Linked DNA regions of Homo sapiens. The protein of the gene in region 2 interacts with the protein of the main gene of each other region in a pairwise test. Each region holds a gene or a part of one and is shown on either strand. Other genes may lie near its edges.

Region 1 (3,522 bases), on a different chromosome or scaffold from region 2:
TTAGCAACCACAGGTAAGGAGCTAATATGTCATGAGTCATGATTCTACGTGAACAGTTTGCAGGTCAGTGGCATGATTTCAATGCCCTTTGGATTCTTGCTGTCATGCTTTCAAAGCCAATATTAATACAAAGTATTAGAATGGATGAGAGTTAAGATGCAAATGCTCTCCTAATCAATCAATTGACATACACATAGTGTGATCTGGTACAGTCTCCTGCATCAAGCTTACACTAGCATCTATAAACCAACACCAGCGTAAAAATAGCCCACAGACATGGTTTCATAAGGAATTTGTGTTTTACCAATTTAGTTAAACCGAAGATGAAGGCACATTTAAATTAGCGTGAAGGTAACGACTCTGACACTCACCTAATCAACAGGAAATCTTCTAAGAAAGAGGAACAGTGGGTAGTGAAACAGTTTTGGAAAACTTTACCTGTAACCATTGTGACTGGTCATTGTGGCCAGAGGTCCAGGCATTCACTTTGCCTTGCTTGTCCAGCCGAGCTTTCCTTGGTTCCCAAGTGAACATGTCCATGTTGAGCGTTCTGAAGATGCTGGAGGCAGTGATCTGATAGTCTTGTATATGTCCTGATTTCATACCCAGAGGCTCAGAACAACCTGAAAGAAAATGAGAAGGGCTCCATGAGAAAAATAATTGATCACCTGGAACTTTTCTGCATTCATTTTGGATAGGCAAGAGAAGATTAAACATAATGCTATTCATTCCTCCAAAGAGAAAACATCTAAATCCAAAAAAAAGCTATAATCAGAAATAAATCTGAAACAAAATCGAAAAACAAGATAGTCAATTCAAGCTATTTTGTCTGAATATATTTTGGAAAAATTGAAAACAAGACAGACAATTTAAACTACTTTTCTGTGATAGATGATTCTGCAAAATGAAAACAATGCTGAAATGCTCTCTCCTGTCTCATTACTGGAGGCCTCCTGACTGCTCCCCAGTTTTCAACAGTTTCATTGTGTCTTTAAAAATGGGACATTTTCTCACAAAGTATTGTTTTTCTTTTATTTGTTTTCAAATTACTGCAAATGAAAATTCCCTCAGTACAAAGTCATTTTCACAAGCTGCTCTACTGCTGTATTCTAAACCGGACAGCATTTTGTTTTTCAAGAAATATGTTAATCTTCATCACTGATTCTTATAGCACCAACATGGCTTCTTCTGTAAGAGAGGAATCTAGTATTTACTGAGGGTATGCCATGTGCCAGGCATTGTGCAAGCATAATTTAAACTAATAGATAACAGAAGATAATAAGATAATTCTAGCAATAACCACCACTGAACAAACCTTTTAATACATTATTTTATTTCAATCATATTCAATAACCTATAAAGTTTAGATATTTTTGTAAGATTCTCAAATCTACCACATGTATTTTTGAGTTTAATACGGTAAAAATTTTGGCTTGCTTGTCCTTGAAAAATTATATGCATGCACATATGTTTGTGTGTGTATACATAGACACAAAATTTCCCAGTCTTGGATTGCAACTGTGACAAAATGCTCTTTACAATTTTTGTAATAGAAAGCATGATTCTATCATCATATGAGCCCGGGGCTGAGTCTTCTTTATGTGAAACTGTTAAATTTTGGTCAAGTAACTCACAAGGTAAGTTTGATCATCAAAGAAACAAAGATGACAAGAGGACACTCCTCCAACCCAATACTTTCTCCTCACACTCTACTGTCTCCCATTTCCCAGCTGTGTAGCCTTGCCCTGTTATTTAACAACTTTCTACCTAAATTTTCTCATCTGTAAGATGGTGATAATAATAGAAACTACCTCAAGGAAGTATTCTAAGAAATTACTTAATAAACATAAAGTACTTAGAAACAGTGCTGGCACACAGCATTCAGTCAATGTTAACTATTTGTATGATTTCTGTAAAACTCATCCCAACAGATGGCAATGGTAAGTCCCCAAATATCAGCATATCAACAAGTACTCAATAATATTTAATTATTGGGTACAGTTTCTAAAACTAGACCTTTTTTGGAGTCTAAACTATAAAAGAGGTGCTTTAGAACTCTTCATTGATCAATAACTCTTAGCTATAACTAATTGCCTTCTGTCCTGGTCTATCTAGATTACTTCTACCTTCTTGAGGCTCCCCATATTTCCCTTCACCTCCACCATCTAGGAAATGCATATCCTATGAAAACATGGAAAACATGACATGGAGGGCTGTGTGTCTTAACACGAGTACATTTTGGTATAGGAGATAAGTATCTGAAGCCTCATATTAAAGATAGCTGTAATGCCTACCTGTATATTCTGGGTGAAAAAAAAGTCATAACAATTCTCTAAGAGTCTAGAAAATTCTAACAGGCTTAATGGCAAGCTGTTTATCTTCAGGAAGTTAGTTTCATAGTGGCATGCATTGTCTACATTGAAAAATTCTGACTTGTTCTTTTATCCCCATCTTTGCCTCTACCTGCATCCCACCCCCCAAGTCTTTGAAAACTTTGCTCAGTTTGCAGGAGATACAAGGGAAGAGGAAAGATAGTTGTTTCCCTCCTTTTGTGATATAACATAGTATTGAAGTACTGGATAGAAAAGGAATGGCTTTACTTTGACCACTTCTGCTTAGCCAAAAAATTCACTTTATATCCATTCTGTTGTCTAGTATTTATCTCAGAATTGCCAAATTATTGGTTCATAGAATGAATGAATGAGTATTCCTCCTCTAATTAGGGTCATAATCTATTTTATTCCAAATATCTTAAGTCATACTTCTTTCAGTGTATTTAGGAGATGATCTTCAAAAGTGTTTGAGAAGAGATTACCTGCTCATCTTCTAGGCAGGGTGAAAGATTTTAATAGCAATTTACTGAATACAATAAGGCTTTACAGTGTTCCACTGGATTGTGGGGAGTAGTTTGGTACATTACATTAGTGTTTATTTCCAGGTGTTACAGCTAACCTCTCTGCCAATGTGCCTCATGCCACAAATTTTACTTCTTATCCATATGATTTCAAGCATATAAATTAATTAACTCTCTTACCAGTGTGGCCAGCACTTGAACAAAATGAAGTATTAACAATGAAATGGGTATTTCTATAATGAAGTGCTCTAGTTTTTTAAAGCATCCATTGAGAGATATTACTCTCTGCATGCAAGTTCAAAATCAATTTGCTGTGCTGGGAGATGCAGCACTGCTTCTTTTTGAGAAAATAAAACCTGTAAAGTGTCAGGTGCAATGTCTTGTCAAACTTGGGAGTAAAATATATTCACATCTTAGGGGTGTAACCGTGCCATGTGTGAAAGACTGACTCTCATGAATCAAAAGACTGAAAAATTGTGGAAGGTGATGTTAAGCAACTAAAAACCATGTGGCTTGCAGCAGATCTCATCATATTGTGGCTTCCTCTTGATTGCTTTATGATAAATGGCTTAGGGATGACACTGGTCTGTGGTGATATAGTGAGATGCAATACAAACACTGTATAGCAATAAGTCTGCTAAGATTTACTGGATCTTAATAACTGGAGT
Region 2 (3,522 bases):
AAAAAAAAAAAAGAGACACTATTTTCTGTAATTCACAGTAATGTTTGCCTAACTGTGCTCCTGAAGTCTGACTCTTATTCTCAGTGACTTAACTTTTCAGGGGCCAACAGACTTTTCAAGCTCATCTTCATGCATATTCTTACCACCTATTTTTTAAGTGGGCAAATGTATACACGCAAACAACCTCCTATTGAGGACTCACTTTGTGACATTTCTGGAAAGCCAACCATCGTCATTGCTTAGTGTCCAGACACTAAACTCAAGGAAGTCATTTCCTCTGGTATGCAATAGCATCTTTTCTTGAATGCCCACAACTAGAACACAGCTGGGCAACACTATGGAAAGGTGGACTAACTGGTCTGGTAATTAATCTTGACATCAAATATCAAAGTACTGAAGAGATTAGGAAGGAGGGGTTAACGGCACCCAGAGGAATAAGAAGGAAAACAGAATTAACTTGTGATGTTTTCATTAGTAAACTGTCACCATTAACCACACTCGGAGTGAAATCACAAGCAGTGGTGAACTCCCACAGACAGATCACTCCGTCTCAACTTTGTGAGATAAACCACTGACCAGAGGTGTGATGCCAGGACCCTGGAAGTCACCTGCCGGGAAACTCGCATCCACTGCAGCTGAACCAATGGTGTGCACACCATGTGGCAGGTAAGCACCAGGTCTGTTAGGTAAATTGTCCTCACTGCATTCCCACGATGTCCTCTGAGGCTCATGCTACTAATGTCTCCACTGTATAGATGAGGGAACTGAGGCACAGAGGCCTTGTAACCTGCCCAAGTCCACTCAACCAGCGGGAGCCCCCTGAACCAGCTGTCTGGAGTGCCAAGTGCTCCAGCGTCCTGGCTTCAGATGTAAACTATGGCTCTGAGCAAGTGGTCTCAGGTGAAATACACACTAAGATGTAAGGTGTTCCCAGAAGGTGATCGGCCTCTTCTAAGGTCGTTAAAAACAACAACAACAAAAACAAAACAACAACAACAACAAAACGATGAAAGAACATGACCAGCTCACTCACCCATGCTGCTGGAAGAGGCAGGGAGTCTTACCTAGGGAACTATTCTATTCAGTCGTTGTGGTGTTCACCTTTGATTAATGTAAAAGATAGCAGTAAGGAGAGAGGTAAAAGGGGGAGAAGATACAGGTACAAAACATTAGAATAGAAGCTGCTGTTCGGGTGCTTCCTCCTCCCTGGACACGGCACGGCAAGGAAACAATGGTCATGAGCAGAGCAGCCAGGTTTCCTAGGGCAGCAAGAGGTGGGTCAGTGAAGAGGGCTGCAGAGTCTGATAGAGGTGACCCCTCAGGGGGAAAGAACAAGAAAGTCACATACCGAGAACTGGGGGTTTCTCCTGGGCTGGTGGATGTAGACAGAGAAACTGTCCCCAGCTTCCTCCCTGACCTCTAGGGTCTGCTTCCTGCATCTGGCTGTCCAGGCTGGGCTGAGCAGATGCTGGGTACAGAGACGGCCCCACATGACAGGGGTCCTCTCCCTGAGTCTTGCTCCACCCTGGGGTGCCAGACACTGGCCAAGGATGTGGCTTCCCTTCCCAGGAGCTACCCACAGAGATGCTGCTGCGTGTTCTCACTCGCGGGATGTGGGGAGAGGACTCGGGGGTTCCTTTTGCTACTGGGAACTTCTAGACTAATTTAATAGGGTTTCTTCTATCGTTCTAAATTGTGCTTTTTTTCCCCACGGATTTTCTACTCTTGCTAGAGCTCTCTCCCTCCTCAAAGGAAGTCACACTGAAACTTATCTGGCATCGTTAACATTAACTGATACAATAGATAGGCTCTACTTTCAAATAAAGGAAGAATTAGTAAGCCCCTTGCCATCTTCCAGAGCAGATTGAGGCCATTCACAGGATGAAGATGACAGGAATCAAATATTAATATAGTGTGCTTTCTCCAGATAAAACAAACTTAGGTTAAAAAGATGAACATTTTGGGAAAAAAGCTTGTAAGTGCAGTTCGTAAACTTGCATATGGCAGACATTTTGAAGAAGAAAAGAAGTAACCATCTCCCGTCGGTGTGGCACAGTGGTTTTTGTCGATTGAGAACATTTCACATTTGTCAGACATGAAAACAGGCAGGGTTACATACAACACCAAGATGGTTACCTGTTGTCATGACGACTCCAGCCAGCACTTTTCTGCGAGCGTGAGGGGAGGAGAAGTTGTCGGTCAGGTCACCAAACTTACCCAGGACCAGGCGTGAGACAGCGTCAGCTAAAACCTGTGTGGGAAGCACAGATGCAGGTTAGGGGCCAGATGCAGCTGGGAGCAGGGCTCACTCTCTCAATGCTGCACGCACTCTCCCTTATGGAGTGACACAGGCTGCTTCTCATCTGGAAGACCACACAGGTAAATCTGGCAAACAAGTATGTGTGTATGTTTCTTCCAGAACATTCCTTGGAAATAGACACCCCAGGATCCTGCCAGGCTCTGGCTGAGTCCTTCGCCACCCGCGTGGGGCCAGTGTGGAGTGTGGGCACCACACATGAGCATCCCTCCAATCCTCACCGCAGGCCAGCCCGGCCCTCAGGAGGAAACCGAGGCAAACAGGCAAAGCTGCCTGCTCAGGGCCACCTGCCCACGCCTACGCCCACCTAGTATGGCCCTCCCACCCCCCTTGCCCTCTCTCACATGCACACACGGTGTGGCTCAGTCAGCTCCAGGGCCACACACAGCTGGGAGCACAGCCCAGGATGATGTGCAAAATCAAAGGCAAGAGAAAGGGGCAGCTTGGAGATGCGATCCAGTGAAGGAAGCCACAAGCTGTGCACAGCACCTCCCTCAAAGGCGCCACCGAGAGGCTTCTCAGTCATTCCAGCCTCTCCACACAAATGCACTCTGACTCCGCTCACTCGCCCAGACGGTACGATAGAATCATGTACCAGAGAACAGCACGGGGAGGGAAAGCGCTTAGACGTTCGGAACACCTGCACAGGTATATGCTCAGGTCAGACAGACATCTGTATTAAAGTGCTTCTGAGAACAGATGTATTTGTTGGATTTTGGACATGGTCTTATGGCTTATGATTTATCTTGGATATAATGAGCCCATGGCATTTTGGGAAATGATGTCTGCTGGGAGGTGGGTGTTAAGAGCCAGTTTCAACTCATGTCCCACCAATTTCACACTTGTCTGGAAAATCAAATGACTACTAGGAAAACCCAGCATCCCCAGGTTGGTCCTTAATAAAATATTTCTGAAATGAGTAGAAAAGATAGTTGTCAGGATGTTTTTCTCTTATCATTGCACCAGCAAGTATCAGTGAGCCCCAGAGGACAGTGTTCAAGACAAGTCATGTGGAGAATGGACAGAGGCTTTGGTGGCAGGGATCCATGCACCCGCAGGCAGCGGCATCTGCAATGCAGGGGTGAGCGGACGCGAGGAACTGAGGCTGTGACAGAAACACAGGACGTGGCCAGGGTGCCAGAGGGAAGGGGCGACGCATTCCAATTGGCCAGGGTGCCAGAGGGAAAGGGCGATTCATTCGAGTT
Region 3 (2,439 bases), on a different chromosome or scaffold from region 2:
AAAGATAAGATTATGATATCCTGCAGCTGCCTCTGCAATAAAATTGTGGAATAAACCAGTTTCTTGGAAAAGCATTATGGAGAACGGTAAAGGAATATAAAAAAGATAATAGTGATGATTCAGACAAATGAATGAGCAGAAGAAGAGGAGATCCAAGTTATGCCTAATTTATGTCATGAGAATTACATAGTAACATTTATTGCCAGATCAAAGTCTTTGAAGAAAAATGCTTTAAAAGATCATGAATACTGTGTTCTGGAAAATCTGTGTCACTTGAATAAACTAAGATGGCTGTACTGAAGACAGAAAGTGGTATGGCCTAGGCTAGCATAAATGTACAACAGAGGCCTTTCCAACCAGGAGGGGTCAGAGACAAATTTTTAAGTTTCCAACCTTTTATGTGAAGCACCCATAATCGAACAACAGTTTTAATGAAAACAAAAAAATTAAACATTTAATAAGGAAAAAAGAAAGTGGATATTAATGATTAAGTTGTGTCTCCTCCCAGAAGATATGTTCAATATCAAACCCCCAATACCTGTGAGTCTGACTTCATTTGGAAATAGAGTCTTTGCAGATATAATCAAGTTAAGATGGGTTCATACTAAATTAGGGTGAGCCTTAATCCAATATAACTCATGTTCATAGAAGAAGAAGAGAAAAGACACAAACACATGAGAGAGAAGGCCATGTGAGGGTGAAGATGGAGGCATAAATTAGAGTCACGCTGCCATAAGGCAAAGAACACCTAGATTTAACCAGAAACCTAGGAGGAGCAAGGAAAGGTCCTCTCCTAAAGGCTTTGGAAGGAATCTGACCCTGCTGACACCTTGATTTTGAATTTTTAGCCTCCAGAATTGTGAGAAAGTAAGTTTCTGTTGTTTTAAGCCACCCAGTTTTTGGTACTTTATTATAGCAGCTGTGAGTTCCTTACAGAGGCCAATAAGCAGGAGACAAAAGACAGACATGGTACAATAGGAAACGAGAGGACTCTCTGCTGACTTATTTCTCCAAGTGTGGACCAAGAAGCAGCAGCATTCCTGGAAGTTTGTTTGAAATGCAGAATCTCAGACCTCGATCCAGAACTGACACATAAGAATTTCCCTTGAAATGATTATAGCTCGAACTGTGTGCCTGTAATAACAATGGCAGTAGCAACACCATAGTTGAGCCCTTTCCATTTACTCTACTTTGATCTATAAGTTATATTCTACACTCGCTAACTGAATTCACACACCAATCCATAAGACATGTACAATTAATATTCCCATTTTATGGACAAGGAAATGAGTCACAGAAAGGTTAACTAGCTTCCCTTAGTCATGCAAATAGTAAGTGTCGAAGCCAAAGAAATCAGCTATATTTATCTTTATTTCAAAGGAAATAAAGATACATATATATGTATATATGCAAAAAGATATATATATAAATATATATATATAAAGATATATATGTGTGTATATATATAAAGATATATATGTGTGTGTATATATATAAATATGGGGGGAAGTTGTGTTGACAAGAGTGCTGGAGAATCAGGCCTGTTTCTCATTTTGATACTGAACAAAATTAGAAGTAGCTTGACTACTGGAAAAGTGTGTTGGATCTGCCTTGCAGATAAGTGTCCAAAATGGTCTTCCCCTCTTTAGATTTCTACTTATTTCTCACCACACTTGTCAGTTAAGCAGCAGGATATCTGCAGGCTTTTCCCCATAAGAGAAAGGCTGCAGCATAAAGGGTATATCATTCAAGGCTATAACATGGAGTGTGCATCATTGAAGGCTACAACATGAAGGGTGCGTCACTCAAGGCTACACCATAAAGGGTGAATCATTCAAGGTTACAATAAGAAGGGTGAATCGTTAAAGGCTATAGCATGAAGGGTGCATTATTCATGGTTACAACAGAGAGAAGGATGCATCATTCAAGGTCCAGCTCTGAACAACAACAAAAAAAGTCCATTTATGGACATGCACCTTGAATTCCTGAATGTCTTCCAATAGAAACCACCTATTCAACTGTAGTCATGAGAGGAGGATCTCTTGGGAGATGAAAAAGAGAAGAAAAAGAGAGGTTTCTTCCCTCTTATTAAAAATACTGGAAAATTCAGATTTTATGGTCCTGCAAGAATGTGGAAAGATGGAAAAGAGTAACTTTCCCTAATGTTAATATTACCTCGGGATATGTCAAATGTAAATGAAAATTATTGCTTCTGTTTCAGAAGAAGAAAAATAGTTTGATTAAGCCTCCTTTATGCCAACCTGTCAGAGGTGTGTCCCAGCATACGTCTTGGATTTTGAACTTAGTCCCTGTCTTGAATAGTGCCTCCCCACCAAATCTTGCTCTTGAACTATTATGCATCTATGGAAACCCACCTCAACTGTTATCTCCTCAAGTTTTTCATGTTCCACTGCACTCATTCTGCTACTATTAGCAGAA
Region 4 (3,522 bases), on a different chromosome or scaffold from region 2:
GTGTGGTGGCACATGCCTGTAATCCCAGCTACTCGGGAGGCTGAAGCAGGAGAATAGCTTGAACTCAGGAGGCAGAGGTTGTGGTGAGCTGCGATTGTGCCATTGCATTCCAGCCTGGGCAACAAGAGTGAAACTCTGTCTCAAAAAAATAAATAAATAAATAAATAAATAAAAAGAGTTCCAGCTGTTTCATATCCTTGCCACCATTTAGTGTTGCCAATATTTTAAATTTTAGTCATTGTGGTAGGTGTGTAGTAGAATCTCACTGTGGTCAAATTAAAAAAAAATTTTTTTTTTTGAGACGGAGTCTCAATCTGTCGCCCAGGCTGGAGTGCAGTGGTGCAATCTTGGCTCACTGCAACCTCTGCCTCCCAGGTTCAAGCGATTCTTCTGCTTCAGCCTCCTGAGTAGCTGGGACTACAGGTGCGCAGTAGCTGGGACTACAGGTGCGCGCCCAGCTAATTTTTGTATTTTTAGTAGAGATGAGATTTCACTATATTGGCCAGGCTGGTCTTGAACTCCTGACTTCGTGATCTGCCCGCCTCAGCCTCCCAAAGTGCTGGGATTACAGAAGTGAGCCACCGCGTCTGGCAAATTAACATTTTAAATGTTGGGTGGCAATTCCACTCCTGTGTATTCATCCCAAAGAAATACTTGAAGTGTGTTTTTTCTTCTGTGTTTATTTGTTTGTTTTTGAGACAAGGTTTCGTTCTGTAACCGAGGCTGGAGTACAATGGTGTGATCATGGCTCAGTGTAGCCTCAACCTCCTGGGCTCAAGTAATCCTTCTGCCTCGGTCTCCTAAGTAGCTGGGACTACAGGTGCATGACACCATGCCTGGCTAAGTTTTAATTTTTTTGTAGAGACAGGGTCTCACCATGTTGCCCAGGCTGATCTTGAACTCCTGGGCTCAAGCCATTCTCCCACCTCTGCCTCCTGAGTAGCTGAGATAACAGGCATAAGCCCCTGTGCCCAGCTCCAGAGTGATTTTTTTTTAACCCTTCTCCCACCTATGGTGAAGATGTTTTTATTTCCCTGAAATGTATGGGTAAGTCCCTATGGCTTAGTTTGGGTACAGTCTAGCTCCAAGAAATACAAAGCCATTTATCAAAAAGCGTAGAGTAGGTCAAATAATACTTGAATCAGATGATTAAAATTCTGAGATTGTGGGCTGGGCGCAGTGGCTCACGCCTGTAATCCCAGCACTTTGGGAGGCCAAGGCGGGTGGATCACGAGGTCAAGAGTTTGAGACCAGCCTCACCAATATGGTGAAACCCTGTCTCTACTAAAAATACAAAAAATTAGCCAGGCATGGTGGTGCGCACCTATAGTCCCAGCTACTCAGGAGGCTGAGACAGAAGAATCGCTTGAACCCAGGAGGCAGAGGTTGCAGTGAGCCAAGATCATGCCACTACACTCCAGACTGGGTGACAGAGCGAGACTCTGTCTCAAAAAAATAAAAAAAAAATCTGAGATTGTGGAGGCAGAAGAGGTCATTCTCTTTCTGAATAAAGTTGTTAGAGAATCTAGTTAGGAAAACTGTGTTCTAGTCCCTAAGAAACATATAAAATTAAAATCTCTCAAGAACATTCTCACAAAGGCAATTATTTTGCTTGTTTTCAGATCAAAATGAACCATGTAATTTCTTTTTAGGAAGTAGAAGTAGTATACAAAACAATCTGTAAAAGAGTTTAATTCAGCCGGGCGCGGTGGCTCACGCCTGTAATCCCAGCACTTTGGGAGGCAGAGACGGGCGGATCACGAGGTCAGGAGATCGAGACCATCCTGGCTAACATGGTGAAACCCCGTCTCTACTAAAAATGCAAAAAATTAGCCGGGGATGGTGGCGGGCACCTGTAGTCCCAGCTACTTGGGAGGCTGAGGCAGGAGAATGGTGTGAACCCGGGAGGCAGAGCTTGCAGTGAGCAGAGATCGCACCACTGCACTCCAGCATGGACGACAGAGCAAGACTCCGTCTCAAAAAAAAAAAAAAAGAGTTTAATTCATGAGGTCATATCTACTGGTCTAAAATTCTAGTTTCCTTTCTCTATGCATTTAATGGCATTGCTTACCTTTTTTGATATAGATGATCTTACTTTCTTGAAAGCTTCTTCAAAATGCTTATGACTAACCTTGAGTTCACCTATGGAGTAAATGCACAAATATACACATCTCAGTATCGTATGGTAACTGACTTAGAACTTAACTTCCTTTGAAAGACTTCAAAACTTTCAAGGGGTCCACTAAAGAGATCAGTGATGAGATGGGCTCTGTTCTTTTTCAGAACAGTATTCTAGCCAGATATATTCTGCTCATCAGATTTTAATCCAAAACCACCCAAAGAGATCTGCCACTCATAAGTTGGTAACTTTTTGTAGGCCTCTTTGCATTGTTTAACTTAATGGTGATGCCTATGAACAAGAGCCAGAATTATTCAGATAATTCAAATAAATGTAACTGGAATAGAAAGTAGGATTCCATAGTATTAATATTTAAGAGTATGCAACACACAATGAGATCTTATGGAGCCATAATATCATAGAATATTTTATATATAATATATCTCAGCACTGGTTTAGAAGGGAGCTTTAGGTCGGGCGCGGTGGCTCAGGCTTGTAATCCCAGCACTTTGGGAGGCCGAGGTGGGCGGATCATGAGATCAGGAGTTCGAGACCAGCCTGACCAATATGGTGAAATCCCGTCTCTACTAAAAATACAAAAAAAATTAAGTGGGTGTGGTGGCACACGCCTGTAGTCCCAGCTACTCGGGAAGCTGAGGCAGGAGAATTGCTTGAACCAGGAGGTGGAGGTTGCAGTGAGCCGAGATCGCGGCACTGCACTCCAGCCTGGGCGACAGAGCAAGACTCAAGTTTAGAAAATAAATAAATAAATAAATAAAAATACAGACAGGGAGGCCGGGCGCAGTGGCTCACACCTGTAATCCCAGCACTTTGGGAGGCCGAGGCAGGCGGATCACGAAGTCAGGAGATCGAGACCATCCTGGCTAACATGGTGAAACCCCGTCTCTACTAAAAATACAAAAAAAAAAATTAGTCAGGTGTGGTGGCCGGCGCCTGTAATCCTAGCTACTTGGGAGGCTGAGGCAGGAGAATGGCATGAACCCGAGAGGCGGAGCTTGCAGTGAGCCAAGATCGCGCCACTGCACTCCAGCCTGAGTGAGAGCGAGACTCTGTCTCAAAAAAAATAAATAAATAAAAATAAAAATAACAAAATAAAAATAGAGACAGGGTTTTGCTCTGTCACTCAGGCTGGAGTGCAGTGGTGCAATCATAGCTCATTGCAGCCTCGAACTCCTGGGCCTCACCCTCCCAAGTAGTTAGGACTATAGGCATGCACCACCATGCCAGTCTAATTTTTAAATTTTTTATAGAGATGGCATCTTGGTTTGTTGCGCAGGCTGCTCTCAAACTCCTGGGCTCAAGCAATCCTCCTGCCGCAGCTTCCCAAAGTGCTGGGATTACAGATGTGAGTCACCACACCCAGCAGACAATTTTTTTCCCCC
Region 5 (3,522 bases), on a different chromosome or scaffold from region 2:
CAGTGAGTACTAAGTAATCATGTGCTATCATTACTTCCAATATTACATGCTATTATTTTGATAGGATTTGGAGATTTTAACATTCAAATGCTTCTCTAAAGCAGTATTTCTGCATTTCTGCATTTGATACAGAGAAGTTTCCAAAAGATCTTTCGCATTTCACTGCAATATCTCCTGAGAATGACATGGACTACTTCAACTTGAAATTAAATCCAACTTGGGCCTCACTAAGAATGGTGAAATAATCCCTCCCTCCTCCTTTGTTGGTGGAAATTGTATCAATGTTGCAGTATATGGAAGCTATATTTATACTGTAAAACAGTAATTTTCTAGAGGCCCACTTCCGGTGAAGGGAATGCCAGGGGGAATGAGTCATCCCAAACAAATAGTGAAGGTGGGTGGGGTGGGTAACCTGAGCCCGTAATGGCGAGATCCCCCTGAGTCCTCTGAGAACAGGCCAACAAGCTGCTCTGCAAAAGAACTGGGAACTCCAGGTGCCTCTGAGCATAAAACAGGAACTTCATGAAACTCAAGAAGGAAAGGCTCACTCACTGGGCAAGATGGGGAAACCTTGGCAGACCCATTACTATACACAGGCTCCTAGAGAGAGAGCACTGTCCACTGTAGCCTGTGGTCTCTGGGAGAAATGGCTCAGACTTAGGCTACTAGAAGAACACGGGTCCAAGGGCACAGAGAAGCAGGCCCAGGCAAAGGGTCGGATTTCAGGTGGACAGAGTCCATGAGGAATCCAGAAAGGGTGAAGCTGATGACTGCGGGTGCGTGTGAGGCTGTGGGAAAGCCAGGCAGTGGCTCACTGTGGGGTGAAACATGGTGAAGCCTTCTCCGAAAACAGCTAGGGAGGGAGCACTTGGGAGATAAAAAGAGACAATTTCCTAAGCCTGAAGCTTGAGCTAGGAGCACCTGGGAAAGCACAGCACTGCCTTACTCAGAGGGCTACAGAAGTCTGTGGGGGACCACATCTCACTGCAAGAGAAGCAGGCTCTGGCTAGGACTGAATATCCCTCCTGAGCCAGAAGCAAGGTCCACTGGGAAATCTCGGTTACAGTCTGAGCATCCTAAGCCTGGGTCCATGACCATTCATAAGGAAGGTCCAGGTAGCACCTGAGAAAAGGGACCAGGGAGCGTTCATCCTTGTGCAATTGCTAGAAGAACTCTAAGGTTTCCCTGTGCTTTTTACCTTTGTCATGTATGTTCCCCTTTTGTGATTAATAGGAAATCCTTCAGAATGAAAAGGATCTTTGCTCTGATTTTGGAGGTGTTAGGGAGTCTGTCTGTACTCTGCAGCCAGGTTTCAACAGAGAAGAACATTCCTAAATAGGACCATAAGTGGCAGCTTAAAGAGGAAAGCAAAACAGGCTGACTCTTGGGGTCCCTGGGGAGGAATAAAGAGACGTGCTGGATGATTCCACTGGCTGCTTCATTTTGGGATCCCCCACAAACACTTTTCATATGAAGGTTTGCTCACTGTTCTCTGACCATTAAAATATCCCTTCCATTCCCCTGTACCTAGAAAACTCCTACTCATCCTCCAAAATCCTATTTCAATGTCACCTTCTCTGGGAAGACTTCTCAGTTCTCCAGGCAGGGTTAGTTGCTCTGATCAACTAGTTCCCAATAATACTGTGTTCTCTCTTTTGTCCTACTATATGTGGTCACATTGTAATCTTTCAGATCTCTCTCCTTTATTGGACTGTGAGCTTGTCAAGGACAGGGGGAGTACGATCTTCACTCTGTACATCCTGCGCCTAGCACAGCACTCAGCAGAGACAATGAGCATATTTGATGAATGAATAAAGGAAAAAGAGCGACAGGGCCAGGCAGAGTACACCAGTGGGTGAGGCAGGGAAGAGGTCCAAGGAGAAAAGCTCTCCTCCAGTGCACTCTGACAAAGTACACAGACAACTTGGCCGGGACCCACTTGTTACGCATCCCGTTATGCAACAGGCCGCGTAGTGCTTTTCCATTCTAGTAAATGCACTTCCCCTAAGGGAGACACAGAGTTCTTACTCCAACTAGTCTGTCAACTCTCTGAGAAGTAGACAGTACACAGCCCAAACACTGGATCTATATATGGCAGGGACAAGCAGTCTGCTGCCCAGATGGCAGCAATAATTACAAATCTCATCTCCCTATTGTATAGATAAGGATGATGGCGTCACACAGGCAGAGCATGTGTGTCTTAGAGAAGGCTCATTTCTGAGAGTTCTGGGTGCTCATTCTCTCCCTTTGCTTATTCAACTTGACAAATGAAAAGCTTGAATTTCATATAATTTTAGGCCTGGCAGGTATCTCTCAAGGCCTTCGAGTCCGTCTGTCCTGGTATCACATCCTCCTGGCCACCCACTTGCCTGGCAAAAGTGCCTGAACTTTACTAAGAACAAGTAACATTGTTTCATAACTGCTGCCAGCTGAGATTTGTCCCAATGCCCAGGACCCTTTTAATAGTGTGGGAGTATATTCCTAACAATACTAAATCCCTTCTCCTAGCCATTTTTCTCTTTTTCAGGCACAGACTTAATTTTAAAAATTGTTCGTCATCAGGTTTCAAGGGAGTTAAAAAAAATGTTTAAAACCACAACCCAAAACAAACTTGAAATCCTTGAAGCAGCTTCTGAGAACCAAGCCTCACCTTTTTGAAGGATGTGAGTAGCTTAACGCTCACATATCCCAGCTTGTTCCTCCTCACGTGTTTTAGCAAAAAGGCGTCCTTCTCCAGGTTTTCATCAGAAAAGTAGAATTCGATCTGATCCACCAGTTTCTTGATCAACTCCTCATCCGGGGGCTTCCACTCCTGCTCCAGGTCCTCACGCTCGTTCTCACCTCCACTTGCAGTGGTGCCACTGAGACCAGAAGGAGACACCGGGTGTTAGGGTCAACGTTGAACTGTGTCCCCCAAAAATTCATATGCTGAAGTCCTGACCCCCAATACCTTGGAGTATGATGTTATTTGGAAATGGGGGTCACTGCAGATGCAATTAATTAAGATGAGGTCTTACTGGAGTAGGGTGGACCCCCTAATCCAACACAACTAGGGTCCTTACCAAAGGGGTAAATTTGAACACAGACATGCACACAGAGAGAACATCATGTGAAGGCGAAGGGAGAGACTGGGGTGATGTAGCAAAACTCAAGGAATGCCAAAGACTGCCACCAGAAGCGAGGAAAGATGCTTAGAATGGATCCATTTCTAGTACTTTCAGAGGGCGCATGGCCCTATTCACACCTTGATTTCGGGCTTCAGGCCTCCAGAACCATAAAACAATATATTTCTGTTGTTCTAAACCATCCAGCTCATGGTATTTTGTTACAGCAGCCCTAGGAATTGACACTGGGTCACATGGCCACAGAAGGAGAGGTTTGCCCCCAAACAGCTAAGAAGTCAATCTTTCATTTTTAACAAGCATGGAGGATCATAAAAATAATAACTGGCCAGGCATCGTGGCTCCCATCTGTAATACCAGCACTTTGGGAGGCTGAGGTAGGTGGCCTGAGCCCAGGAAT

Evidence for each region.
Region 1: the proteins of ADARB1 (region 2) and EDIL3 interact in a two-hybrid assay, tested with the Homo sapiens proteins (one large-scale study listed by BioGRID and IntAct).
Region 3: the proteins of ADARB1 (region 2) and DCN interact in a two-hybrid assay, tested with the Homo sapiens proteins (one large-scale study listed by BioGRID and IntAct).
Region 4: the proteins of ADARB1 (region 2) and NVL interact in a two-hybrid assay, tested with the Homo sapiens proteins (one large-scale study listed by BioGRID).
Region 5: the proteins of ADARB1 (region 2) and LARP6 interact in a two-hybrid assay, tested with the Homo sapiens proteins (one large-scale study listed by BioGRID and IntAct).

The regions. Positions count from the first base shown.
Region 1 is NC_000005.10:84,059,862-84,063,383, forward strand, and holds part of EDIL3 (EGF-like repeat and discoidin I-like domain-containing protein 3 isoform 1 precursor), read right to left. Parts: intron 624-3,522; coding exon 439-623; intron 1-438. UniProt on the Homo sapiens protein: Promotes adhesion of endothelial cells through interaction with the alpha-v/beta-3 integrin receptor. Inhibits formation of vascular-like structures. May be involved in regulation of vascular morphogenesis of remodeling in embryonic development.
Region 2 is NC_000021.9:45,179,059-45,182,580, reverse strand, and holds part of ADARB1 (double-stranded RNA-specific editase 1), read right to left. Parts: intron 2,252-3,522; coding exon 2,137-2,251; intron 1-2,136. UniProt on the Homo sapiens protein: Catalyzes the hydrolytic deamination of adenosine to inosine in double-stranded RNA (dsRNA) referred to as A-to-I RNA editing.
Region 3 is NC_000012.12:91,142,399-91,144,837, forward strand, and holds part of DCN (decorin isoform a preproprotein), read right to left. Parts: 3' UTR 1-2,439. UniProt on the Homo sapiens protein: May affect the rate of fibrils formation.
Region 4 is NC_000001.11:224,229,155-224,232,676, forward strand, and holds part of NVL (nuclear valosin-containing protein-like), read right to left. Parts: exon of another isoform or gene 3,494-3,522; intron 2,143-3,493; coding exon 2,072-2,142; intron 1-2,071. UniProt on the Homo sapiens protein: Participates in the assembly of the telomerase holoenzyme and effecting of telomerase activity via its interaction with TERT. Involved in both early and late stages of the pre-rRNA processing pathways.
Region 5 is NC_000015.10:70,833,645-70,837,166, forward strand, and holds part of LARP6 (la-related protein 6), read right to left. Parts: intron 2,862-3,522; coding exon 2,651-2,861; intron 1-2,650. UniProt on the Homo sapiens protein: Regulates the coordinated translation of type I collagen alpha-1 and alpha-2 mRNAs, CO1A1 and CO1A2. Stabilizes mRNAs through high-affinity binding of a stem-loop structure in their 5' UTR.